Linked DNA regions of Homo sapiens: all the other regions are linked to region 3. The links come from fine-mapping of genetic effects on gene expression. A gene starts in region 3. Each other region holds a variant in brackets. All regions are shown on one strand. Distances are from middle to middle. Region 1 overlaps LINC01388 (long intergenic non-protein coding RNA 1388). Region 2 overlaps PGM5P3-AS1 (PGM5P3 antisense RNA 1). Region 3 holds the start of WASHC1 (WASH complex subunit 1). Region 4 overlaps ZNG1A (Zn regulated GTPase metalloprotein activator 1A). Region 5 holds the start of DOCK8 (dedicator of cytokinesis 8).

Evidence for each region.
Region 1: its variant is fine-mapped to the expression of WASHC1 in lymphoblastoid cells (TwinsUK, PIP 0.95). The same link has a PIP of 0.9 or more in skin.
Region 2: its variant is fine-mapped to the expression of WASHC1 in whole blood (TOPMed, PIP above 0.99). The same link has a PIP of 0.9 or more in blood mononuclear cells.
Region 4: its variant is fine-mapped to the expression of WASHC1 in whole blood (INTERVAL, PIP above 0.99).
Region 5: its variant is fine-mapped to the expression of WASHC1 in whole blood (TOPMed, PIP above 0.99).

What each region holds. Positions count from the first base shown.
Region 1 is chr9:103,326-108,433 of GRCh38, reverse strand. LINC01388 (long intergenic non-protein coding RNA 1388) reads left to right here. Exons shown (of 8, transcript NR_187612.1): 6 at 4,640-4,745. Among named protein-coding and RNA genes, the nearest start is that of LINC01388, 7.9 kb to the left of the region's middle. The variant T/A (reference allele first, on the strand shown) is at 2,640.
Region 2 is chr9:83,272-88,379 of GRCh38, reverse strand. The region is part of intron 2 of PGM5P3-AS1 (PGM5P3 antisense RNA 1); the gene reads right to left. Among named protein-coding and RNA genes, the nearest start is that of PGM5P3-AS1, 13 kb to the right of the region's middle. RefSeq lists an enhancer at 4,996-5,108. The variant G/A (reference allele first, on the strand shown) is at 2,274.
Region 3 is chr9:26,402-31,509 of GRCh38, reverse strand. It overlaps WASHC1 (WASH complex subunit 1), which reads left to right and starts at 2,054. Exons shown (of 11, transcript NM_001378090.1): 1 at 2,054-2,198. MIR1302-9HG (MIR1302-9 host gene) reads right to left here and starts at 1,851. Exons shown (of 3, transcript NR_197460.1): 1 at 1,628-1,851; 2 at 1,065-1,168; 3 at 619-752. It overlaps MIR1302-9 (microRNA 1302-9), which reads right to left and starts at 1,366; the gene lies at 1,229-1,366.
Region 4 is chr9:168,167-173,274 of GRCh38, reverse strand. ZNG1A (Zn regulated GTPase metalloprotein activator 1A) reads left to right here. Exons shown (of 15, transcript NM_018491.5): 3 at 1-5; 4 at 1,103-1,194. Among named protein-coding and RNA genes, the nearest start is that of ZNG1A, 8.3 kb to the left of the region's middle. The variant A/T (reference allele first, on the strand shown) is at 2,375.
Region 5 is chr9:210,177-215,266 of GRCh38, reverse strand. It overlaps DOCK8 (dedicator of cytokinesis 8), which reads right to left and starts at 402. Exons shown (of 48, transcript NM_203447.4): 1 at 238-402. The coding sequence starts at 290. DOCK8-AS1 (DOCK8 antisense RNA 1) reads left to right here. Exons shown (of 1, transcript NR_160804.1): 1 at 1-1,810. RefSeq lists silencers at 1-67, 238-287, 338-387, 398-647. The variant G/C (reference allele first, on the strand shown) is at 2,268.

The DNA of each region.
Region 1 (5,108 bases), 77 kb before region 3:
AACCTCTATCCCCTGGATATTGGGAGTAATATCTATCTTTAGCCCCTGGATACTAGGGACAATATCACAGGAGCGGTGTATACACACGGCGCTATTGGGAGTAATATCATTTTCTCCACCGCTTGATATTAGGGACAATATAACAGTGGGGACGTGCACCCCCTGGGATATTGGGAGTAATATTAATCTCTTCCCCTGTGGATGTTAGGAACAATATCACAGAAGGGGTGTATACCCCCAGCGATATTGGGAGTAAGATCATCCTCTCCCAACTTGGATATTAGGAACAATATCACAGGGGAAGTGTATAACCCCTGCGATATTGTGAGTAATATCATCCTCTCCCAAAAGGGAGATTAGGAACAATATCACAGGAAAGGTGTACACCTCTTCTGATATTTGGGGTAATATCATCTCCTCCCCTCATTGATATTAGGAACGATATCACAAGGTGCGTACAGCCCCTGCGATATTGGGAGTAATATTATTCTCTCTTCCCCTGGATATTAGAAATAATATCACAGGCGGAGTGTACAGCCAACCCCCTGCGATATTGGGGGTAATATCATCCTCTTTTAACCTGGATATTAGGAACAATATCACAGGGGGCTTGTACACTTCTTTTGATACTGGGAGTAATATCATCCTCTCCACAAGTAAATAGTAGGAAAAATATCAAAGAAGGTGTGTACACCGCTTGTGATATTGGGAGTAATATCATCCTACCTCACCTGGATATTAGAAAAAATATCGGGGGGCGTTTACACCACCTGCGATATTGGGAGTAATATGATTTTCTACCCCAGTGGATATTTAGAACAATATCACAGGGGCAGTGTACACCCTCTGAGACATTGCGAGTAATATCGTTCTCACCCCGCCGCCCCCACCCCAGATGTTAGGAACAATATAACAGGCAGATTATACACCTGCCGCAACATTGAAAGTAATATCATCCTTTTCCCCCTGGATATTAGGAACAATATCTTATGGGGGGTTTACAGCCCATTCCATTTTGGGAGTAATAGCAACTTCTTCATTGCTGGAAATAAGAAACAATATAGCAGTTCTGGTGTACACACCCTGTGATATGGGCAGTAATATCATAGACTCTCCCCCGGTGTATTAGGAACCATATCAAAAAGGGGTGTATGCCCACAGCGATTTTGGGATTAATATCATACTCTTCCCCCTGGATATTAGGAACCATATCAAAGAAGGAGTGTCTACCCCTTGCGATAGTGACAGTAATATCATCCTCTCCCTCCCTGGATATTAAGAACAATAAAACAGAATTGGTGTACACCCACTACGATCATGGGAGTAATGTCATCCTCTAACCCCTGGATATTAAAAACAATATCACAGAGGAGGTGTACACCCCTCGCGATATGGCCAGTAATATCATCGTCTCCTCCACTGCGTATTAGGAACAATATCAAAGGGGTGTGTACACCTCCTGCGCTATTGGGAGTGATGTCATTCTCTTTTCCCCTGAATATGAGGAATAATATCACTGATGGGGTGTACAACTCCTACGATATAGGCAGTAATATCATCCTCTCCCAACCTGGATATTAGGAACAAAATAACAGGACATGTACACCCCCTGCGATACTGGGAATAATATCATCCTCTCTCCCACTTAATATTGGAAACCGTATCCCAGGAAGAGTGTAAACCCTCTGAGATATTGAGAGTAACATCATCCACTCCCTACCTAAATATTAAAAACAATGTCACGGGAGGGGTGTACACCCCTACAATATTGGGAGTAATATCATCCTCTCCCTCCCTAGATATTAGAAACAATATAAAAGGGGTCGCGTACACCCCCTGTGATACTGGGAGTAATATCATTCTAATCCCCCCTGGATATTAGGAAGAATATTATACAGGGGATGTACACCCCTTGACATATTGTGAGTCATATCATTTCTCTTCCCTTGGACATTAGGGACAACATCACGGGGCGGGGGTGTCCCCTGTTATATTGAAATTATTATCATCCTCTCCCAAACTGAATATTAAAAACAACGTCACGGGGCTGCTGTGACCCCAGTAATATGGACAGTACTATCATTGTCTCCCTCTCTAAATATTAAGAACAGTATCACAAGAGGGGTGTACACCCCCTGCGATATGGCCAGTAATATCATCGTCTCTACCTTTGGATACTAGGAACAACATCACAGAGGGTGTGTACACCCCCTGCGATATTGGGCGTAATGTTAGCCTCTCTTCCCCTGGATATGAGGAACAACATCCCTGGTCGGGGGAGGTGGAGTACATTAAGAACAATATCTGAAGGAGGTGGGTGTTCACCCCCTGAGATATTGCGTGTAGTATCATCCTCTCTTTCCTAGGATATTAAGAACAATATCACAGGAGGGGTGTACAGCCCCTGCGATATTGGGAACAATATCACCCTATCCCCCTCTCGATATAAGGAACAATATCCCGGGGTGGGTGTACACCCCCTGCGATATTGGGGGTAATATCTTCCCCTCCCCCGCTGGCTATTAGGGACAGTGTCACAGAAGGGTGTCCACCCCCTGCTGTATTGGGAGTGAGATCTTCCTCTCCGTCCCTGGATATTAGGAACAATATCCCTAGGGAGTGTACACCTCCTGCAATAG[T/A]GAGACTAACATCATCCTCTCGCCCCCTGGATATTAGGATCCATATCTCAGGGGTGGTGTACATCCCCTGCGAAACTGGAAGAAATATCATCCTCTCCACCTTTGGACGTTAGGGACAGTATCACGGGGGAGGTCTACGCCCCCTGCGACATTGGGAGTCATATCATCCGCTCCCACCCAGGACATTAGGAACAAGATGACTGAACGGAGGTACACCCGCAGCGATATCTTCAATCATGTCATCCTCTACGCCCTGGCAATTAGGAGAAACATCATAGAGGGGTGTACACTTTCAGCGACATCGGGAGTAATATCCTCTCCCCCACAGATATCGGGAACAGTTATATTAATTATTAATAGTAATAAATATATTAATAATTAATAGTAATCATCGATATTAATAATTGCAATAGAGATAGTAAAAGTTAATACGGATTAAAAATATTAACAATTACTATTAATAATAACAATATCACTATTAATAATAAAATAATGATATTATTAATCAATGTTACATAAATCAGTCATAAGTGATGTTGGTAATAAAACAATAATTAATATTAAGATTAATAACTAATATTATTGAAAAATGACATTAATACAGATAATTTTAATCATGCATAATCGTACATTTAAAATAATCATTAATGATTAATAACGTTATACTATTAATTAATATTACCATTGATAATTATTAAGACTGAAGTTTAACAATTAATAATATTATTAAGATTGATGCTTAATAATTAATCGTATTATTTCTCCTAATACCGCAGGGGGTGTACACCTACCTGTGATATTGTTCCTAATATCCAGGGATGGAGAGCATGATATTAGTTTTAATATCTCAGTAGGTGTACACTCACCCTGTGACACTGATCCTAATAGCCAGGGAGTAGAGTATGACATGACTCCCAACATAGCAATGAATGTACAGCCACCCGGTGATATTGCTCCTAATATTCATGGAAGAAGCGTAGGATATTACTTCCAAAATCGCAGGGAGTGTACACCTCTTCTGTGATATTGTTCCTGGTATCCCGAGGGGGAGAGGATGATAATAATCCCAGTATCGCAGGCTGTGATCACCCACCCTGTGATATTGTTATTAACATCCTGAAAGGGAGAGGATGATATTACTCCCCGTAATAGATAGATATTACTCCCCATAACAGAGCAGGAGGTGTACACCCACCCTGTGATATTGTTCCTAATATTCAGAGGCCGAGAGGTCGATATTACTCCCAATATCGCAGAAAGTGTACCCCCCCAGGGATATTGTTCTCATGATCCTGGAGGGAAGAGGATGATGTCACTTTAAATATCACAGAAGGTGTGCACGCCCCCACTGATATCGGTTCTAATTTCCACGTGGGAGAGGAGGAGGTGACGCCCAATCACACCTGCAGTAGAAACACAGCTGTGATGCTGTTGTTAATATTCAGGGAGGAAGACGATGATATTACTCCCAAAACAGACGGCTGTACACCCTCTGCACACCGAGGGTGTACCCCCATCTGTGAAATAGTTTATAATTTCCAGAGGGGGAGATGATATCACTCCGAATACCGTAAACAGGCTGTGAGTCCACCGCGGATCCTAAAAACCAGGGAGGGAAGAGGGGCTGGCACGCACTCCCCGCATCAAGGGGGGTGTCTCACCCCCTTGCGATGGGGGTCCTAAGAGCCAGGGGGGAAGAGGGGCTGGCTCTCTTTGTGGATGATTCTTTTTCCATTCTCAGGCAGTTTTCTTTTTTCTTTCTTTTTTTTTTTGGAGACTGAGTCTTGCTCTGTTGCCCATGCTTTGCTGGATCTCGGGTGACTGCAACCACTGCCTCCCAGGTTCAAGAGATTCTCCTGCCTCAGCCTCCTGAGTAGCTGGGACTCTAGAGGCGTGTGTCACCACACCCAGCTAAGTTTTGTATTTTTAGTAGAGATGGGGTTTCACCATGTTTGCCAGGATGGTCTCTATCTCCTGACCTTGTGATCCACCCACCTCAGCCTCCCAAAGTGCTGGGATTGCAGGTGCGAGCCACCGGGTCCAGCCTCTCAGGCGATTTTCATACCTGCATACTCTGATCACTACGCTGTTAAACAGTCAAGGAGGGTAAGTATTATCTTCAGATTTCCAGAGCTCTGTCTCTGTACAGCCCTCTCCTCCTCAATATTCTGCCCTATGAATTCTAGCCACATTGGCCTTCCCAGACTCACAGTTCTGTCTTCTCAACTCAGGAAGATCTCTGAGCTCCATCTGCATTCTTTCTTCCTGTGCTGTGGCTTGGAAAGTTTTCTAAGGTGTTTGGGAGGTCAATTGTGGGGCTAGCCTCATTTGTTTCTCATCTCTTGAGGATCACTGCCCTTTGATGCTTGATTCCAGTGATTGATTCCCTTTGTTGCTTGAGGGCCATAGTTTCATATATTTTGTCCAGTATTTTTGTTGTTTTAGGTCAGAAAGTAATTTTGGTCTCTG
Region 2 (5,108 bases), 57 kb before region 3:
AGGGAGCCCAGGATGGTGCAGGAAAAAGGAGAAAGGAAGATTTTCCTTGCAGCTAATCAGGAGAGTTCATAAGGGCTGATTACATGTGTGGAAGCCTTAAGTTCTTTTTTTTAAAAAATGTGAAAATTTGCATGCATGCATGCATGTATGTATGTATGTATGTATGTATAGCTTCGTGTATTACCATTATTATTGCAATCAGCAAATGGATTTACTTCCTTTATCTCATGGGCTCCTTCCCACTCACTTCTGGCAGCACATTTTCCTTTCTCCTTCATCCCAGAACACCAAAGAACAGATGCGCTTCCTAACCCTGGCTCCAGGGGACTTTATACAATGTAAACAGTGCACCTCTAACGTGGTTCACCGCTTAGAGAACGTGTGTCCCATTTTAAAACTGTGACTCCTTTGTATTTTGCAGTGCTTATTTTAATAAGAGACATTGGACTTGTGACTTATTTTTCATGGAGGAGTGAGCTTAATGGTTGAAAGTAATCGATAAACTTGTTTTTCCTCTGATGCCATCAGCCAAGATCCTATGGCAATAGTAAGAGGATGACACTGGGCTGGCACCCCCTCCATAACATATTTGGACCATTTTTTCCCCCAGAATGCACATGCAATAGCTTCGGTTTGGTAAGAGAGAGATGGTGTACTTGGTTTCCTTCTGTCACACTTTTGGTGAAATGAATTAGACTTTTAAATCAGGAAATTCAGCGAGATGAGTTAGATTTTTACACAAGAGCAGTGGAGGACTTCCAGCTGGTTGGGGGAATGATACGGAAATATCTTGCTAAATCAGGGTCTGGTGGAATGCTGCTCCCCTGGCAGGCTCCTCTTCACAGGGAGCAATCTGTGGGTTGCTTATAGAACAGAGCGAGCAGGAGGCATAGCATGGTCTTGCTCGTGGGAAGACCCGGTGTTCAGATGTTTGTCATTAGGAACTGGGTGTGGGCTTTTTCAAGCTAAACTGAAGCAGCAGTTCTATTAGGAAGAGCCTCTCAGAGCAGCATCTTCTGTTTCTGGATACTCTCCCTTTGAAAAGCCAGATTTCAGCAAAAAGCTTTGCTAATGGTGAAATTGCACAACTGAAACCCTATGGGAGCAATGGGAAAGATGGAGAAAGAGGTGGTTATATCATGTACTTCAACAGTTTATTTAGAGGCTGTTGACGTTAGAATAACAAGCCAAGACAAACAAAAATACTCATTTTGGATGAAAATATTGTCTTTTCATGTTATTATAGATAGCTGAGTCCTAAGACTTATACAGAAACACATTTTCCTAATGAGTGGCTGATTTTTCTGGTTGTGCAAGTAATATCCAAATTATTGTACAAATTTTTGGCTCAGGAGCAAACATTGTATTGCATATTGAGCTAATCACTTGCCCTTTCTAAGGTAAGCCCTTACCTCTGCTTTCCCTTCATCTTGTCATTTCTGTTTGTTGGGTACAGGTTTCCTGTTGGTTCTTTCTGTTGGCTCTGATGTAACATGAATGCAGTTCTTAACATCCTTTCAGACATAAACACAACTTAGCTCATTGTTTCTGAGTTCATATAGAGGTTTTCTTGCCCCTGAGACTTTCATGTCAGACAGCTGGATGTTGCTGTGTTCAAGGCTCTATATGTTGATTTTGTATCCTACAACTTTACTGATTTCACCTATCAGTTCAGTTCTAACAGTTTTCAAATTTTATTTGTTTTTGTTTTCTAAATATTGTATGTTTCATTTTAGAGTCAGGAGGGTAGATGTACAGGTTTCTTACACAGGTATATTGCATGGTGCTGAGGTTTGGGCTTCTAATGATCCCACCACCCAAGCAGTGAGCATAGTAATCGATAGGCAGTTTTTCAACTCTTGCTCCCACCATCCTTCCCTCCCACCTTTGGAGTCCCCCCAGTGTCTATTGTTCCCTTCTTTGTGTTGAGTTCTAACCTTTTTTCAGTGAAGTTTGTAGGGTTTTCTATATATAACAAGATCATGCTGTCAGTAGAGACAATTTCACTTCTTCCTTTCCTATTAGGATGCCTTTTATTTCTTTCTATTGCCTAATTACCCTGAGAAGTGGTGTCTGTGGGCATCCTTGTCTTGTTCCTGATGGTAGAGGAAAAGTTTCAACTTTTCACCATTGATTATGGTGTTAGCTATGGGTTTGTCATATATGGCCTTTATTTTGTTGGGATACAGTCCCTCAATACGTGATCTGTTGGGTGTTTTTTTTTCACCATGAAAGGGTTTCGAATTTTGTCAAAAGCTTTTTCTATATCTATT[G/A]AGATGGCCATATAGTTTCTATCCTTTATTTTTCTAATATGGTATATTATATGTATTGATTTGCTTATGTTGAACCATGACATGATCGTGGTGAATGATTCTTTCAATGTGCTATTGAATTTGGTTTGCTAGGATTTTGTTGAGGATTTTTGCATCTATGTAGATCAAGGATATTGGCCTGTCATTTTCCTTTCTTGTAGTGTTCTTGTCTGGCTTTGGAATCAGGGTAATGCTGGCCCTGTAAGATGAGTTTGGAAGTATTCCCTCCACTTCAGCTTTTTGGAAGAGTTTGAGAAGGACTGGTATTAGTTCTTCTTAAAATATTTGGTAGAATTAATCTGGGAAGCCATCTGGTTTTGGGTTTTTCATTGATGGGAGACATTTTCTTACTGATTCAACCTCCTTGCTTGCTATTAGTCTGTTCAGATTTTTTAATTTCTTCATGAGTCAATCTTGGTAGGTTTTATGTGTCTGGGAATTTATCCATTTCTTCTAGATGATCCAATTGGTTAGTGTGTAATTATACATAGGAGTTTCTTAGGATCCTTTGTATTTCTGTGATATTGGCTATGATGTTTCATCTTTCATTTCAGATCTTATGCTATATTGAAAACATGAGGCATAGCAGGTAGGGGGCACTGGTCAGGACTTGGGGTATAAACTGGCAGATGTTAAGGTGGGTGATTCTGGTTAACTCAGAAACTCCAAAGTCCCCTGTGGAAGAATTAACTGCCTGTACTCGCCTAGTAATGTATATCCTTGGTCAAAAAAAGATCCAGCTGAGAATGTTGGATGAAGGGACCAAATCAATATTCATCATTATGTTGAAAACAAGTCAGATTGGCTGCGGTCTTTTGACAGCAGGTCAGTGGCTAAGTCTATTTGAACAAAGTTAGGGCAGGTTCAAGAGAGAATCCTGAGATCGGTATTCTTTGTTCCATACAACCTTGCCTTTCAGTTTCTTCTCCCCATGCCTCCAGGATGTCCCTGCACAGCCTGTAGGGCCCCCTCCTTCAGTACCTTGCCTTACGAAGGGGAGAAAATGAGTTTTCCAATGTTAGCATATATTTAGCCTTCCAAAATTTCTATTTCTATTTTAGGGGAGCTCTAGGAAAACAGCAGATTACTCTAAATCCCCAGGTAAAAATCTGAAATGGTGGAATTTCATATGACCAGGAGACATATTTTGGGGCAAGTGGGCTTTTCACAATCACTTGGACATGAAGGCATCTGCTTCTTCTATGCCTAAAATATTCCTTCAATTTAGTAGTTTAGTTCCTCTTCCTCTTTTTCAGATTTCAAGACAATACATGTACTGACTGAACAATTTGGATCCAAGTTTCACTGTTTAACTGCCAGTGTGACCTTGGGCGAGTCACTTAATCTTTTCAAGGCTCAATTTCATCATGTAAAGTGGAAGTACAAACAATCCCTGACTTACAATATTTTGACTTATGATTTTTCAACTTTAAGATAGTTTGAAAGCAATACACATTCAGCAGAAGCTGTACTTTGAGTACCCATACAACCATTCTGTTTTCCACTTTCAGTACAGTATTCATTATATTACATGAGATATTCAAAACCCACTTTATTATAAAATGGGCTTTCTGTTAGATGATTTTGCCTAACTGTAGGTTAATGTGAGTGTTTAAGGTAGGCCGAGCTAAGCTATGATGTTTAGTAGGTTAAGTGTATTAAATGCATTTTCAGCTTACAATATTTTCATAAGTTTATTGGAATATAACCCCATTGTAAATTGAGGGGTATTTGTAATAATGATATCTCTTCAAGGAGACTTTGTGAGCCTCTCATAGGAAAATGCATACACAGATGCATATAAATATATAATCTTTCTTTTCCATACATATGATATTCTTTAAGGATATTCAAAAATCTGGAAACAGTTGCCTCCAGGGAGATAAATGGTAGTGGGTTGGGAAGCTTTTAACTGTATACGCTTTTGTACCTTTTGCATTTTGAATCAGATGAATGTATAATCTACATAAAATATTAAGATTAAAACATCACCGAATAACTTATCAGGAGTTTGGTGAACATAAGGGAAGGCCACCTATGGTGGCTGTATTTTATTCAGTGTTGGTCACTGTTGGGCACTTCATAGAGCTTATTTCATTTCATCCTCACAAGCGCCGTAGGAGGAAGGGGCCCCAGAGGGATTCATGGTTAGAATAGCAGAGTAGGGGTCTCCCTCTGATGCCGAGCCAAAGCTGGACGGTACTGCTGCCATCTCGGCTCACTGCAACCTCCCTGCCTGATTCTCCTGCCTCAGCCTGCCGAGTGCCTGCGATTGCAGGCGCGCGCCGCCACGCCTGACTGGTTTTCGTTTTTTTTTGGTGGAGACGGGGTTTTGCTGTGTTGGCCGGGCTGGTCTCCAGCTCCTAACCGCGAGTGATCCGCCAGCCTCGGCCTCCCAAGGTGCCGGGATTGCAGACGGAGTCTCGTTCACTCAGTGCTCAATGGGGCCCAGGCTGGAGTGCAGTGGTGTGATCTCGGCTCGCTACAACCTGCACCTCCCAGCCGCCTGCCTTGGCGTCCCAAAGTGCCGAGATTGCAGCCTCTGCCCGGCCGCCACCCCCTATAGGAAGTGAGGAGCGTCTCCGCCCAGCAGCCGCCCCGTCCGGGAGGTGAGGAGCCCCTCTGCCCGGCCACGACCCCGTCTGGGAGGTGTGCCCAGCGGCTCATTGGGGTTGGGCCATGATGACAATGGCGGTTTTGTGGAATAGAAAGGCGGGAAGGTGGGGAAAAAATTGAGAAATCGGATGGTTGCCGGGTCTGTGTGGATAGAAGTAGACATGGGAGACTTTTCATTTT
Region 3 (5,108 bases):
TTTTTTTTCTGAGACAGGGTCTCTCTCTGTCGCCCAGCCTGGAGTGCAGTGGTACAATCATAGCTCACTGCAGCCTCGATCTCCCAAGCTCAAGTGATCCTCCCGCCTCAGCCTCCCATGTAGCTGGGACTACAGGTGTGTGACACCATGACTGGCTATTTTATTTTATTTTTGTAGAGATGGAATCTCACAATATTGCCCAGGCTGATCTCAAACTCTTGGGCTCAAGCAGTCCTCTCGCGTCAGCCTACCAAAGTGCTAGGATTACAGGCATGAGCCACCACGCCCAGCCAGATTACAAAATACTTTGACATCTTTTCTCTACAGCCCTCAAAAGGAGGCAGGGCAAGCACAATTAAATCCCATTACAAATGGGGTGACTGAAGCTCCATTCATGGCTTGCCCAGGGTCACACAAAGAATGAATAGCAGATCCCTGAGCCTGTGTGCTTCCCTCTGTGCCAGGCTGCTTTACCCAGGCATGGGTGCACGTTGTGCATGGGACATTTCTCCTTTGTTGTGTCCTGAGTACCTTAAGCCACTCAGATATTGCTCAGGTGGAGTGAGGGGAAAATGTTTTCAGGTTGTATTAGTCAAAACAAAATACCACACACTGGGCGACTTTAAAATCATACATTTATCCCTCACAGTTCTGGAGGCTTGGAAGTCCAAGTTCAAGGTGGCAGCTGGACAGGTTCCTGGTGAGGGCTCTCTTCCTGGTTTGCAGACAGCCACCTTCTCTTCGCATCCTCACTTGGTGGGAAAAGACAGAGGAGAGAAAGAGAGAGAGAGAAAAATGAGATAGAGAGAGAGAGAGAAATGAGATAGAGAGAAATGAGAGAGAGAGAGAGAGAGAGAGAGAGAGGGAGACACAGAGACAATGCTCTCTTTTCTTACCAGATCTATAATGAGGGCCCCACCCCATGACCTCATCTAACCGTAATTACCTACCAAAGGCCCATCTCCACATACCATCACATTAGGGGTTAGGGTTTCAACATAAGCATTTGGAGAGGACATAAACATTCTGTCTACAACATGAGTGGAGATCCATCTCTTCTTTACCTCTGGTAAGGGGACCACACGCTGCAGCCAGCGAGACAGTGGCATGTTCTTGTTACAACTCGATCTAACTCCCCCAGAAGAGGAGGCAGGGAAGGCGGACAAAACTGGGAGAGGGAGAGAGTGTTAGGAAGAGAGTAGGGTGGCCAGAGGCAGCAAATAAAATATAAAATGCTTAATTCTGAATCTCAGATAAACAACCAATAATGTTTTTTAGCATAAGTATGTCCCAAACTAAGCTTGGGACATATTTATGCTACGAAATTATTCGTTGTTTATCTAAAATTCAAACTAGCTGGGCATCCTGTCTTTTAATCTGGCAACCCTAAAAGGCAAGGGCCAAAAATGCCGGAGGCAAGCCAACGGATTCCAGGAGGGACAACTGCTGGACTTTGGACTGATGATGCTCTTTTTATATATTTAACTTTTTAAAAAAGCCTCTTTTCTTTCTTTTTACCAGCTTTTCACTAGCTTTTTAAAAATTGTGGTAAAACATACATAACCTAAAATTCACCGTCTAAACCATTTTTCAGCATACAGTTCAGTGGGATTAAGTAGATTCACACCGTTGTGCCGCCATCACTACCACTCATTTCCAGCACCCTTCCATCACCCCAGCCTGAAACTCTACCCATTGAACACGAGCTGCCCAACTCCGCCTTGCTTCCCCATTCCTGGCGACCACTGCTTCTGTCTCTGTGAATTTTGACTATTCTAGGCACTTCACAAAACTGGACTCATACGATATCTGTAGTTTTGCGTCTGGCTTCTCTATTGAATTCTTAAAGGGGGGTGGGAACTAAGCAGATCACAAGGGAGCTGCCCACAGAGGTAAAGACAAGGTCAGGTAGGCTGAGAGACGCAGGAAAGCGGGTCAAGGCGTAGGGCTGGAGGGCAGGGGCGGGCCCTGGGCGTGGGCTGGGGGTCCTGCCCCGGGGCGCACCCCGGGCGAGGGCTGCCCGGAGGAGCCGAGGTTGGCGGACAGCTTGGCCCTGAGCTTGAGGGGAAGGCAGCGATGGGACAAAGGACGGAGGTCTAGGAAGAGGGTCTGCAGAGCAGAAAGCACGGGTAGGGGCGGCCTGACGCTCGGAAGACAACGGATGGGAGCCGTGTGCACGTCGGGAGCTCGGAGTGAGCGTGAGTTCCGTGCCCAGGCCCGCGACTCGGCCCGACAGGACAGCGCTCCGGGTCGACGGGGTCCTGGAGCCGCGCTCGGGGAGGCGTCTTGGGCTCGCCCCGGAGCTTCCTCCCTGGAGCCGCGCCCTGCACCCGGCCTTGCCCGGCCCTAGCAGGGAAGCCAAGGCTTGTGGGGCGCAGGGACCCGGGCTCTGCGGGGTCCCGGTTCCGCCTCCCCACTCCTGCGTCTTCCCGCCCCTGCCGGGTTCTGGGAAGCCTCGCGCGGCTCTTCCGCAGCTGCTGCCCGCCCGGAGCTCCTGGTCCCTCGTAGGGGACCCCACTTCTCTGACACCGCTTTGGGTTCCCGGGGCCTACAGCGAGGCTTGTAACTCCGGGAGAGACCCTGGAGCGGGGTGTGGGAGAACGGTCTGGAGGAAGGGCTCCGAGCACTTCGAAAGTATAAACCGCGGTCCCAAAGAGGCGTGCTGTGTCTGCATTTTCCTGGGAGTGCACGGTTTACATTCTCGAAAGCAGTGCTGTCGACTAGAAATATTGAGCGATACACATGTACAAGTTTTGTCACTTAAAAAGAATTTGAAAAAACTTCATAGATGCAAAAAAAAAAAAAAACCCACCATTATTAAAGAATACTTAGGTATTTGTGGAATGCATTGAAGAGTTAACAAAATGGATAGGCAGGAAATATCGCAGACCTAGAATGAATTACAGTTACCCACTGTGGAACTGAGGAGCTAGGGTTTCTCATAAAACTCCCTGATAGAAGACGACTTTTGATAAAATTTTTTTTCCGCCAACAAAATCCCCTGTCTTCTCAACTAGTTACTGTCTGTCCACTAAATAAGAGGTGGTCCGTCACTTCTTCAGATGAGCAACTACAGGCTTTTCAAAAGATAATTGCTAATCAACCCCTTTGTGCCTGGGTTTTCTTATTTGTAAAAATAGATACTACTACCTAACTCCAAAGTGTGTGGTGAAGACAAACAATTGGGGTGATGTATACTAAAGTAACGAAAGTGTTGACCACACACTACGGGCTGGTTAGTGTTAGATTCCCTTGTTTTTCCCTCAGTATCAAAAACAGATCTAATTTAGGTTTACATAAAGACAAAGTATGAAGATAAGGTGACTTACAGTTGGTACTACTAACAAAATGTTTGGGCTAATATTTGCATTATTGCATGAAAACAACAAAACATATCAATAAATAACAAAAAGCTTGGAATTCAGACGACAGATCCAAGTCTGGGCTTGATCTCAAGCTAGTGTTTTGATGTTGAAAAAATGTTATTTGGTCTTTCTAACCCCATTTCCTTATGTAAAATAGGGGATGATGATAAATTCACTGATAATAAGAGTTAAATGAGATTCTTGAGGAGTCAGAATGGTTCTAACATGTGTAGGTATTATTAGCAGTCATACTGTAGCATAAGAAAATACCGTCTGCTGAAAGAGGGACAATAAAGATTATCTACATGGTCATCATTTAAAAGCTACCAGATATAGGAAGAAGGGGCCATAAAATGATAACGTTATGATGATTAATTTTGATGCTTAGGTCAGAGTCCATTCTAGGATATCTGCTGCCCAAAAACAGCAGAGACTCATTTCTTTGGAATCACAGGACGCTGAGTGAGAGGAAAGAAAAAGAAAAGAAATATTTAAGTCACATATGTGATTTCTAAAAGTAAAAAGAAACAGATGAAATTAGTGATATATTTTTAAAATCCAGTATATCCCAAATATGGTTATTTTAGCATGTAATCAATATAAAATAATAAGATATTTTACATTCTTTTTTTCTAGCCTTTGAAATTTGGTGCATATTTTACACTTATGGCACATCTCAATTCAGACTATCCACATTTCAAGTGCTCAGTGGCTGCATGTGCCTGGTGGCTACCATATTGGACAGCACAGGTCTAAGGATTTCATTCCTGCCACAAGTCCAAACTCCTAGCTTTAATTTTGAGTGTTTTTAACAAACTGGCCTCTGTTTATCATTCTTTCTTCTAGTACTTCCCCAAGGATGATTGTACCCTCAGCACTCAAGACCGCTTGCGGTTCCCCTACACACTTTTTGTTCAAGCTGTTTCTTTTACCTGGAATGCTGTCTTTGCACCTTCTTCCTGGACCTGGTTCACCCTCGTTGCCTAGGCTGGAGTGCCATGGCGCGATCTTGGCACACTGCAACCTCCACCTTCCCGGTTCAAGTGATTCTCCTTCCTCAGCCTCCCGAGTAGCGGGGATTACAGGCCTGCACCACCACGCCTGGCTAATTTTGTATTTTTAGTAGAGATGGAGTTTCACCATGTTGGTCAGACTGGTCTCGAACTCCCGACCTCAGGTGATCTGCCTGCCTTCGCCTCCCAAAGTGCTGGGATTACAGGCGTGAGCCGCTGCGCCCGGCCGAGAGGCACACATTCTGCTAAGAGCTTTTTCCTGACTCCCCTAACTCCAAGAGGGATTTGTCACTCCTTAGCTTTGTACCCATGACTGGAGTAGAATGAATTTAATTTGAGTTTAGTTGTTTTTGAGACTCTCCCTGGCTAGTGTAGTGTCTTATTCGTCTTTGTTGTGATCATGGCCTGCACCTAACAGATGATCAGTAGATGTTTGCAGACAGAAAGTAAACCACTCATCAGGTGTATTCAGTCCCATTCTTGAACGGGCTTGCTGCCTCCTTTTTGAGGAGATCTGTGTATGTACTCTTCTTTCACGCATATGTGTGAGCAAACACACACACACTAACAAGAAATTCATCTGAAGATGTGCACAGGAAATATCTTGCATCTTTACCCCCTTTGTGATCTTACATATGGGAGAACTGAGGCACAGAAATAAGTTAGGACAGCCAGCAAACTTGCATCAGTATAAATACAAAGAAGGGGAGGGAGGAACATGCTTGAAAGG
Region 4 (5,108 bases), 140 kb before region 3:
GTGAAGTGAGGAATGTGTTTACTGTGTACATGGTTTACTAGAAATGTTTATTGATTATATTTCCAGCTTTAATTTTCTTGAGTAATTTAACTGAATTTACACAGTTTGCTTCATTGTATTTTCAAACAAATAGAAAATAAACTTATTAGGAAGCATTTTCTTAAAGTGTTTCTTGCTGTCTTTTCTATCTGCTCTAATGTTTTGGTCCTTTTATTGAGTTTTTATTGCTTTTGATGTCAGGGCTTATTTAATCTCTAGTGCATGAAAGTCTCATATGTAAAAAATGATTATTCTGAATTTAATCTGTCATTGGTCATACTTCTAAGTGTTCAATCTTATAAAAAAAATAAATGACTATCAAAAAAGAGAAAAACCTTACGTTATGTTCTACTAGTTAAGTTTTCAAGGACAGTGTTCACTAGTCTACCATAGACCCTAGAAGAGTTACCCAACACATAGTAGCACTCAAATATTTGTTGAATGAATTATAAAAATGACTACTTGTACTGTTAATTTTGTGTATTCTAGTGAATTAAATCTCTTCGGCATCATTTACTCCCTTAGGTATTTGACTTTGTGTCAAATGTTTTGGCAAGGATAAAATTATAACAGACTTTCTTGAACAACCAAAATATAATCTATTAAGGATTTTCCTTCACTTTTGATAAAATAAGAAAAAAGGAAATTAAAACCTTGCATCCTAATGTAAAATAGAATTATATGGTGTTTAATATCAGTGTCTCTTTAGCTATTATATTAAACTACTATAGTTAATACATTTTATCATTATTTTGTATGTTGGTTTTTAAAAATTTCATAAAGCTATAAAAAGATACTTGGTCAGATAAAGTTTCCTCTGCTTTTAATTTTGATAAAGTATTATGTATATGATTTCTTTTTACCTATTATATATATGCATCTATTGTTTTCTCACTGGTAAATATGGGACGGACATTTTGTTAGAAGGTTAGAAGTGAGTTAAATTTTCACATTCCCAAGGGTACTTTTGTCTCGGGTTGTTGAATATATTTTAAAGTGTTTATAATAATCACTTCAAAATATTTAGGTAATTAACTGTAAATTATGTTTTGGTATTCTCCAGGGACAGTGGCCTTAGAGCTATTGAGAATTTGATGCAAAAGAAGGGGAAATTTGATTACATACTGTTAGAGACCACTGGATTAGCAGACCCTGGTAAGAAGTGAGATTATTAATAACCAGAATATAGTTCTGTGATATATTGTAAATAGATGTATTAGAGGAATATCTAAAATGAGGATTAAAGCTTTTGTTAGTATTAAACCAAAAACTTTTTTTGGTTTAAAAGAGGAAAAGTACTCGGTTGTCATTTTCTTTGGCAGTTGAATGAATGAACAGAGTATTTCTTGGTACTTTTAAGCTGTTAATAGAATTTGAAGTTTTATTGATTGACTTAGGATTATTTGTAAGAACAGAAGTTGTTAAAAATAAGGACATGTAGGAAGAGCAGAGACGTTCTACCTCTAAGTACAGTTGTCCCTTGGCATCCATGGGGTATTAGTTCCGGAATCTCTGAGGATACCAAAATCTATTAATGTTCAAGTCCCTTACATAAAATGGTGTAGTATTTGCCTATAAGCTATGCACATCCTCCCATATACTTTAAATCATCTGTAGATTACTTATAATACCTAATACAATGTAAGTGCTGTGTAAGTAGTTATTACACTGCATTGATAAGGGAATCATGACAGGAAACTCTGAACTCTACTATGGAAAGCTACACAGAGTCAACCTGTTTCTAACAATGGGTTTCTGTTACCTTCTTACCAAGCTCTAATTCTTGATAAAGTCTGCTTATTTTCCCCAAATAACTTTTAGATAAAATCTTTATTTTCATTTTGCATAAAAGTTAGTGCTTATTCTGTGAATCTGACCCATACCATTATTTTTTTTTTTGATCTGGGTCTCTGGCATTGGGGCGATTTGTAAAACTATATTAAAGTATTTGGGGGTAATTTACTCAACAGGTCATAGTTGTCCAAAAGAAATATTGAAGTATCCTGAGAGTTCAAATGTGATCAGTGGTTATTGTACTTAAAACAATTACATAATAACATCATCCCCATGTTTTCAAAGTAGTATTGAATTAGGCTATTTTGGTCCTTATAGTAGGCATGGGTTTTCATACCTTTCTGATAAATCTGACTGATGATAGGACTTGGACTAATATGTTGGTGTTAAATATTTGAATCTGGTAAGAAAGAAAAATATATTGTATGCTTTTATTAGAAATAGCAAATATCAGTTTATTTCATCATAGCCAGTTTTGCCATTTTATAGACAAAAACTTGATACTTTTGAGAGTTTAATTAAACACGATTCAGCTTTTCAG[A/T]GGAAGAAAGAAAAACTAAAGATCACAGAGAAAGCTTTTATACAAATTGTAGTTATAAAAAATGTTAATGTTTCTTGCTTCTAACTTTCTTTACAATAAAGATTTTATTGTTTGGGTAAAGATGGAACATTCATTGTAAAAAAATTTAAATACCTAAAAAATACAAAGAAGAAAGTTGAAAAGTAATCATCTCACTTTTGTGATATACAAGTAGGGGCTGGGCATGGTGGCTCATGCCTGTAATCCCAGCACTTTGGGAGGCTGAGGCAGGTGGATCCCTTGAGGCCAGGAGTTCAAGACCAGCCTAGCCAACATGGTGAAATCCAGTCTCTACTGAAAATTCAAAAACTAGCCAGGCGATGTGGCGCACCCCATAATCCCAGCTACTCAGGAGGCTAAGGCAGGAGAATCGCTTGAAAGCTGGGAGGCGGAGGTTGCGGTGAGCCGAGATCACGCCACTGCACTCCAGCCCAGGCAACAGAGCAAGACTGTACACACACACACACACGCACATGCACATGCGCACACACACACACACACACACATTCATACACACACACACACAAGTAGGTACATTTTATTCCAGGGATCTCTCTATGCCAGTGCTACTTGGTAGTATGTTGAATGGCAGCCTCAGCCTCAGCTGGGAGCTTGTTAGAAAGGCAAATTCTTGACCAACCCAGATCTACTGAATCGGAATCTCTAAGGGAGGGGGTCAAGCAAGCTGTTTTTAATAAGCCCTTCAGGTGATTCTTATACTGTACAGCCATACCGCAGGGATATTGTGGGCTTAGTTCCATATCACTGCAGTAAACTGAATATCACAATAGAGTGAGTCACACACATTTTTTTGTTTCCCATTGCATATAAAAGTTATGCGTTTTGGCCGGGTGTGATGTCACAGGCCTGTAGTCCCAGCTACTTGGGAGGATCACTTGAGCTCAGGAGTTTGAGGCTGCAGTGAGTCATGATTGCACCACTGCACTCCAGCCTGGATGACAGCATGAGACCCCATTTCTTAAAAAAAAAAAAAAAAAAAAAAAAAAGCTGTGTTTATACTATACTGTAGTCTATAAAATGTGTAATAGAATTGTCTAAAAAACATACATACCTTAATTAAAAATATTTATTGCTAAAAAATGCTAACAATCATCTCAGCTTTCAGCAAGTCATAGTCTTTTTGCTGGTAGAGGGTCTTGCCACGATGTTGATGGGTGCTGACCAATCAGGGTAGTAGTTACTGAAGGTTGGGGTGGCTATCGCAATTTCATAAGATAATAATGAAGTTTGCTGCATTAGTTGACTCTCCCTTTCATAAAAGATGTCTCTATAGCACATGATGCTATTTGATAGCATTTTACCCACAGTATGACTTCTTTCAAAATTGGAGTCAGTCCTCTCAAACCCTGCTTTATCAATTAAGCTTCTGTCATATTTTAAATCCTTTGTTGTCATTTTGACAGTGTTCATAGCATCTTCACCAGGAGTAGATTCCATCTCAAGAAACCACGTTCTTTTCCCGTCCATAAGAAACAACTTCTCATTAGTTAAAGTTTTCTTATGAGATTGCAGGAATTGAGTCACATCTTCAGACTCCCCTTCTAATTCTAGTTCTCTTACTGTTTCCACCACATCGGCAGTTATTTCCTCCATTGAAGTCTGGAATCCCTCAAAGTCATCTGTGAGGGCTGGAATCATCTTTCAAACTCCTATTCATGTTGATACTTTGATCTCCCATGAATCACAAATGTTCTTAATGGCATCTAGAATGATGAATCCTTTCCAGAAGGTTTTCAATTTACTTTGCCCAGATCCATCAGAGGAATCACTGTCTATGGTAGCTATAGCCTTATGAAATATATTTCTTAAATAAGACTTAAAAGTCAAAGTTACTCCTTGATCAGTGGGCTGCAGAATGGATGTTGTGTTAGCAGGCATGAAAACAACATTAATCTTGTACATCTCCATCACAGCTCTTGGGTGATCAGGTGCGTTGTCAATGAGCAATAATATTTTGAAGGAATCTTTTCTTTTCTAAGCAGTAGATCTCAATGGTGGGCTTAAACTAAACCGTGCTGTAAACAGATGTGCTGTCATCTAGGCTTTATTATTTATAGAAAACAGGCAGAGGAGATTTAGCATAATTCTTAATGGCCCTAGAATTTTTAGGATAGTAAATGATTATTGGCTTCAACTTGAAGTCACCAGCTGCTTTAGCCTCTAACAAGAGAGTCAGCCTGTCCTTTGAATCTTTGAAGCCAGGCATTGACTTCTCTATAGCTATGAAAGTCCTAAATGGCATCTTCTTCCAAAAGGAGGCCATTTCATCTCCATTAAAAATCTGTTGCTGGCCGGGCTCGGTGGCTCATGCCTGTAATCTCAGCACTTTGGGAGGCCGAGGTGGGCAGTTCACGAGTTCAGGAGTTCAAGACCAGCCTGGCCAACATAGTGAAACCCCATCTCAGCTAAAAATACCAAAAATTAGCCTGGCTTGGTGGTGGGAGCCTGTAATCCCAGTTACTTGGGAGGCTGAGGTAGGAGAATGGCTTGAACCCGGGAGACGGAGGTGGCAGTGAGCTGAGATTGCACATTGCACTCCAGCCTGGGTGACAGAGCGAGACTCCATCTCAAAATAAATAAATAAATAAATAAAAAATAAGTCTGTTGCTTAGTGTAGCTACTTTCATGAATGATGTTAGCTACATCTTCTAGGTAGTTTACTACAGCTTCTATA
Region 5 (5,090 bases), 180 kb before region 3:
GGACATCCAGGAGCACCGAGATTCTTGGGGAGGACCTCGCCGGGCCCAGCGCAGGAGCCGCCGCGCGTCCAGCGGCTCCACCGCCGCAGCCTCGGGAACCGGGCGCCCCAGGTCTCAGGCGCGCCCCGCCGCGGACGCGAATGGACTCGTCCGGCCTCGGCCCCTGCAGCGAAGCTCCGCTTCACACCAGCGCTGGGCTGTCCGGCCGCAACCTGCGCGCCGCGGGGGGCGTCTTACCTGTTGATCTTGAGCGCGAACGCGCGGCGCTCTGCGCTCGGCAGAGTGGCCATGGCCCGCCGGCGGTTCGGTGGCTTCTAGGGTCGCGGGGTGCGGAAAGCGGGGGCCTGGCGCGCCGCAGAGTAGCCGCGGAACATGCCCAGCCAAGCGCAAACCTCGTCTGTCGGTCGGCGCTGGAAACTTCCGCATTTCCACCTTCTAAGCCGAAATCACCCCGGGGGAGGGTCCGAGCTCGGAGCAGCGACGGCCGGCTCCGCCACCCGGCCTGGCGCGCAGGCAGCGGCGGGCGAGGAGGGCGTGGGCCCAGCGCGGAACTGGCCTCCCGATACTGGGGCAGACGGCGCGCTCTGCCCGGGGCCGCCGACCTCCGGCCGAAGGGAGCGCGGGCGGACGACAGGCGACCACTGCGCGCAGGCCGGAAGCTCCATCTGCCCGAAGCTGCGAGGCTGCCAGGGAATGTAGGCAAGTCGGGGGAGCCCCACAAAGCTGGCGAGGTCGGGAATCACCCCAGGGATTCGTAAGGCTAGGTGTTATTAAGGGTTGACACCATTCTCGAAGAAGGCAGCCAAAAAAAAAGACAAAAAAGTTAGTGGAATCTATCAGGATTCAAATCAACTTTTGCAAGCAATATGCCCATCATCCTTCCTGAGACACTAAATAAATATAATGGATTCATCCAAGGAATAAACATTATGAGTTCTCAAAAAATGTTTTCGTCACAACCTGGCGTGAATGCTTTTCTCCGGAGAAACACTGAAGGCGGCGTTCTTGCGATTCAAGGGTACGCTGCGTCCAGGTTTATTTCAGTTTCAGACTGAGGTCTGCTAAGAAGCCCGGCCTCAAACTCAAGATAAAAACAGAAAAGTCCCAGTGTTGACGGGAGTGGAGGAGCCCGTGTTCGCTTCAAGGTGCCGGCGTGCTGCTCTAACCTGTGCTATATATACTCGAGCACTCTCCATATAATGCCTCCATTTACCAACTTGCTCTTAAAAAATACCAAAGCAGGCCGGGCGCGGTGGCTCACGCCTGTGATCCCAGCACTTTGGGAGGCCGAGGCGGGCGCATCACGAGGTCAGGAGATCGAGACCATCCTGGCCAACGTGGTGAAACCCCGTCTCTACTAAAATACAAAAAATTAGCCGGGCGTGGTGGCGCACGCCTTAGTCCCAGCTACTTGGGAGGCTGAGGCAGGGGAATCACTTGAACCCGGGAGGCGGAGCTTGCAGTGAACCGAGATCTGCCACTGCACTCCAGCCTGGCGACAGAGCAAGTCTCCGTCTAAAAGAAAAAAAAAAAAACAACCAAAGCGAAGTATTTTTGGTTCAAACCTGCACTATTTAATATGATAGCCACTAGCCACATGTGGCTATTGACCACTCGGCATTATGGTTAGTCTGAATTGCCCACTGCTGGATGTGTAAAATGTACACTGGAATTTAAAGACAGCGCAGAAAACATCGTGTAAAATGTCTTGTTAATGATTTTCATGTTGATTGCATGTTAAATGATACTTTGGATATAAAAAATATATTATTAAAGTTAATTTCACCTGTTTGTTTTCCCCTTTTAAAAATGTGGTTTGCATTTTTAAAAATGTAAAATTACACATGTGGCTCACATTTGTGAGCCTCATTATATTCCTATTGGACAGTGCCAGTCCAATACAACCTAATTTGTCACCTAATACTAAAATCCACCTAAGGACTATATTCAGTCTCTTCCTGATACAGCCTTCCTTCCTGGTTTCAGCTGTGTCAGGTAGTTTAGTAACTTTTCAGTACTGGTTAGGTAACTCCCCGCCCCCCAATGCCCACCAAATATCAGTGCCCTTTTAAGCATATAAGACAAAGTTCACTGCATAGACTACAATAGACTACATACGAAAACAAACCCAAAGAAAAATAAAGCTTTTTTGAAATTTAGAGTTTCTGACTTTCAAAACTGTCCTTATTTACTACATTGGAATTTATGAGCAAACATTTGGATAGCAAAATACAAAGAGAACAAATGTGTAAGTACTTCTTCAAACT[G/C]AGACTCAACGAATGATACATAGAAAACATTTTGCCCCAGAGGCTTCGGTCCACGGTGTACCATGTCAGCCTTTCGGATGAACTCCTCTGAATTTCTGAATGTTTATGACATACATTTTCATATAGAACAAAAATATACTGGTTTCACACAAACATAAATAAAATGTAATGAAAGCATCTCAGATTTTCAGCATTTGCAATCAAGGAAACTTTTTGGGTGAATGTGGGAATCATAAAACCTTCCATCTTGCCTCAGATCATACTGCAATAGATTTAGTATTTGGTACCTAACCATGAAGGTTAGGCCAGCATTATTATCCTCTGTGCTGTCAATTTCTTGATGGTTAGAATTGTCTCCAGATTTCCTTAACACTCTTTTAACAATTCACCATGAATGTGTTATCCATTAATTTAGTCAAATGCCTGTTTTCAAGTTTGATCTGCTGTTAGATACATTCACATATTGCTGGCAAATAGCCATCCAAGTGCCTTTCTTCCTTATTCTCACTGCCTCTTTCGTTTTCCATCAGCCCTCTGTCCAGAGAGAACTCTGGGAGGCCTCCTTCTTTCCGCATCTGATGGTCTCTCTTGGCCTTCCTCTTTCTCCGTATCTTTGTGTCATTCAATTTTGTTTTTCACCTTTATACAACTCTTCCCTTGACTTCTATCTCAGACCATACATCAATTATCCTAAATGCTCTAGTTTTCCCCACATCTTCTTCTTACCTCCCCAGAAAGCCGACCTCTTTCTCTACATTGCATCTTACCTATTTTATTGAACAAACAACTAAATAACACTTATCTTGTACCGGGTACTGCTCCAAGTCCTTTATAAAAATTAATTCATAGCAACCATTAAATAATAACATTAACCCCCCCACACATACCTCTTTGCAACTGGAGAAACTGAGGCTTAGAGAAGTTAAGTGACTTGACCAAGATTACAAACTAGTAAGGGCAGAGCCATTTCCTATCCTAAAGTTTTGCCTATTTCCCAGATTTCTGTACTCTAACATCTTCAAACTCCAGTATAAAACTAAAATTCTCCATCTACCCTACTTAACTGGAAGCTAGCTATCTCTCCATAATCACACATTTTTTGGGGGGTCGGTGGTGGCACACTACTTCCTCATTTTCCAGGTTTAAAACTTTGGAGTCATCCAGTGGAGGGAAAAGCAGGAAATCTGGGTTCTGGCTTCAGCTTTTTGCTAATTGTGTAATCCCGAGTAAGTCACACGGTCTTTGGATCACAGAGGCCTGTATCTTGGAATGACTCCATCTGCTTGCCTCTCTCTGAACTTTAGAAATACGTCAGCTCTAACTTTTTTTCCTCCTGTGTCCTTCAGATCTAATCACCTACCAAGGTCTGCCATTTATTTCTTATAAATATCACTTCTTTGTAAATATCACTGTTCTCACAGTGGCTTTCATTCCGGTCCAGCCCTTATAAATTAATACCTAGATAACAAAAATAAGATTTTAAATGGCTTCACTGCCTGTAGCCTCTTCTTTCTCCTATCTCATCTGTTTCTATCACTAGATGAAGTTTACTAAAATACCTGTTTCACCATATTTCTTCTCTGCTCATTTAGCTTTGGTGACTTCCTGTAGCCTCTATGACCAAGCGTGACCTTTTCTAGCTAGCTCGTATGCCCACTTCACAAAACCAGCTTTATTCTTTACCTTTCTGTTGGAGCAGGGAAGATCTCCAGCTTGTCCCTAAAGCAGGCGGTGCTCCTGTCTGCCCAGGCCCTCTTCCTGCTTACGTTATCCTTCCTGCTGTCCTCGCCTCGCACCACATCCAGTCTCTGCCCATCCCTCAGGGTCTGAGTCAAGCTACCATGCTCCATCTCTATTGGATGGAGTGTCTCTTTCAGTCTGACAGCATCATTTAATTAATTAAAAGTGTGGGTCATTACCAATAAACACAGCGCAGTGGAATGCAAGATCCTGAGGACAGGACTAGAGAGGAAAAAAAAGTGTGATCATTTTCATGTCCCTTCCTTCTTCCCCAAAACCACGCAGGACCTCCCCAGATTTAGTTCAAATGTCACCTTCCAAGAACATCTAGTTAACATGACAGTGCCCCCTTCCCTTGTCCTGACACTTTCTAACTCCTTTTCCAACTTTGTTTTTCTCCATAGCTGTTATGACCATCTGACATACTATATATTTTATTTATTTGTTTATTATCTCTTATGCTTCTAGAATAAAAGTTCCATCAATGCAGAGGTTTTTGTTTGGTTAATTTGTGCTCTATCTCTACTGTCTAGAGCCCTGGCATATAGTAGGTGCTCAAAAAGTATTTATTGAATAAATGAATGAATAAGTGAACTTGAATGGGAATGGCCAAGTTTCACTTGTCTTTCAGGAGACAATGACAGTTTTTACCTTTTTATTCTCTTATTTTAGTTGTGCCTTTTTATGAATATCTTTCAACTCTGTTTTGTATTTGTTTCTTGGTTTGAAAAATCAAACCAGCAAGTAGATATCTTTATTGTTGTCTTACAATTGGTGAAACATACAGAAAGATTTGAGTGCAGGTATTTAAAACCAGCCATACTTTAGATATTAGAATTTGTAGCTCCTAATTTTCTTCACGTCATTCCTTGTTTTGTCATAAAAAATCTTTCAATATGAAAAGAACAAAGATTAGCAAACTTTCCTTTAAAAATTATCATTGAGGCCAGGCACGGTGACTCATGTCTGTAATCCCAGCACTTTGGGAGGCCGAGGCGGGCAGATCACCTGAGGTCAGGAGTTCGAGACGAGCCTGACCAACATGGAGAAACTCCGTCTCTACTAAAAATACAAAATTAACCT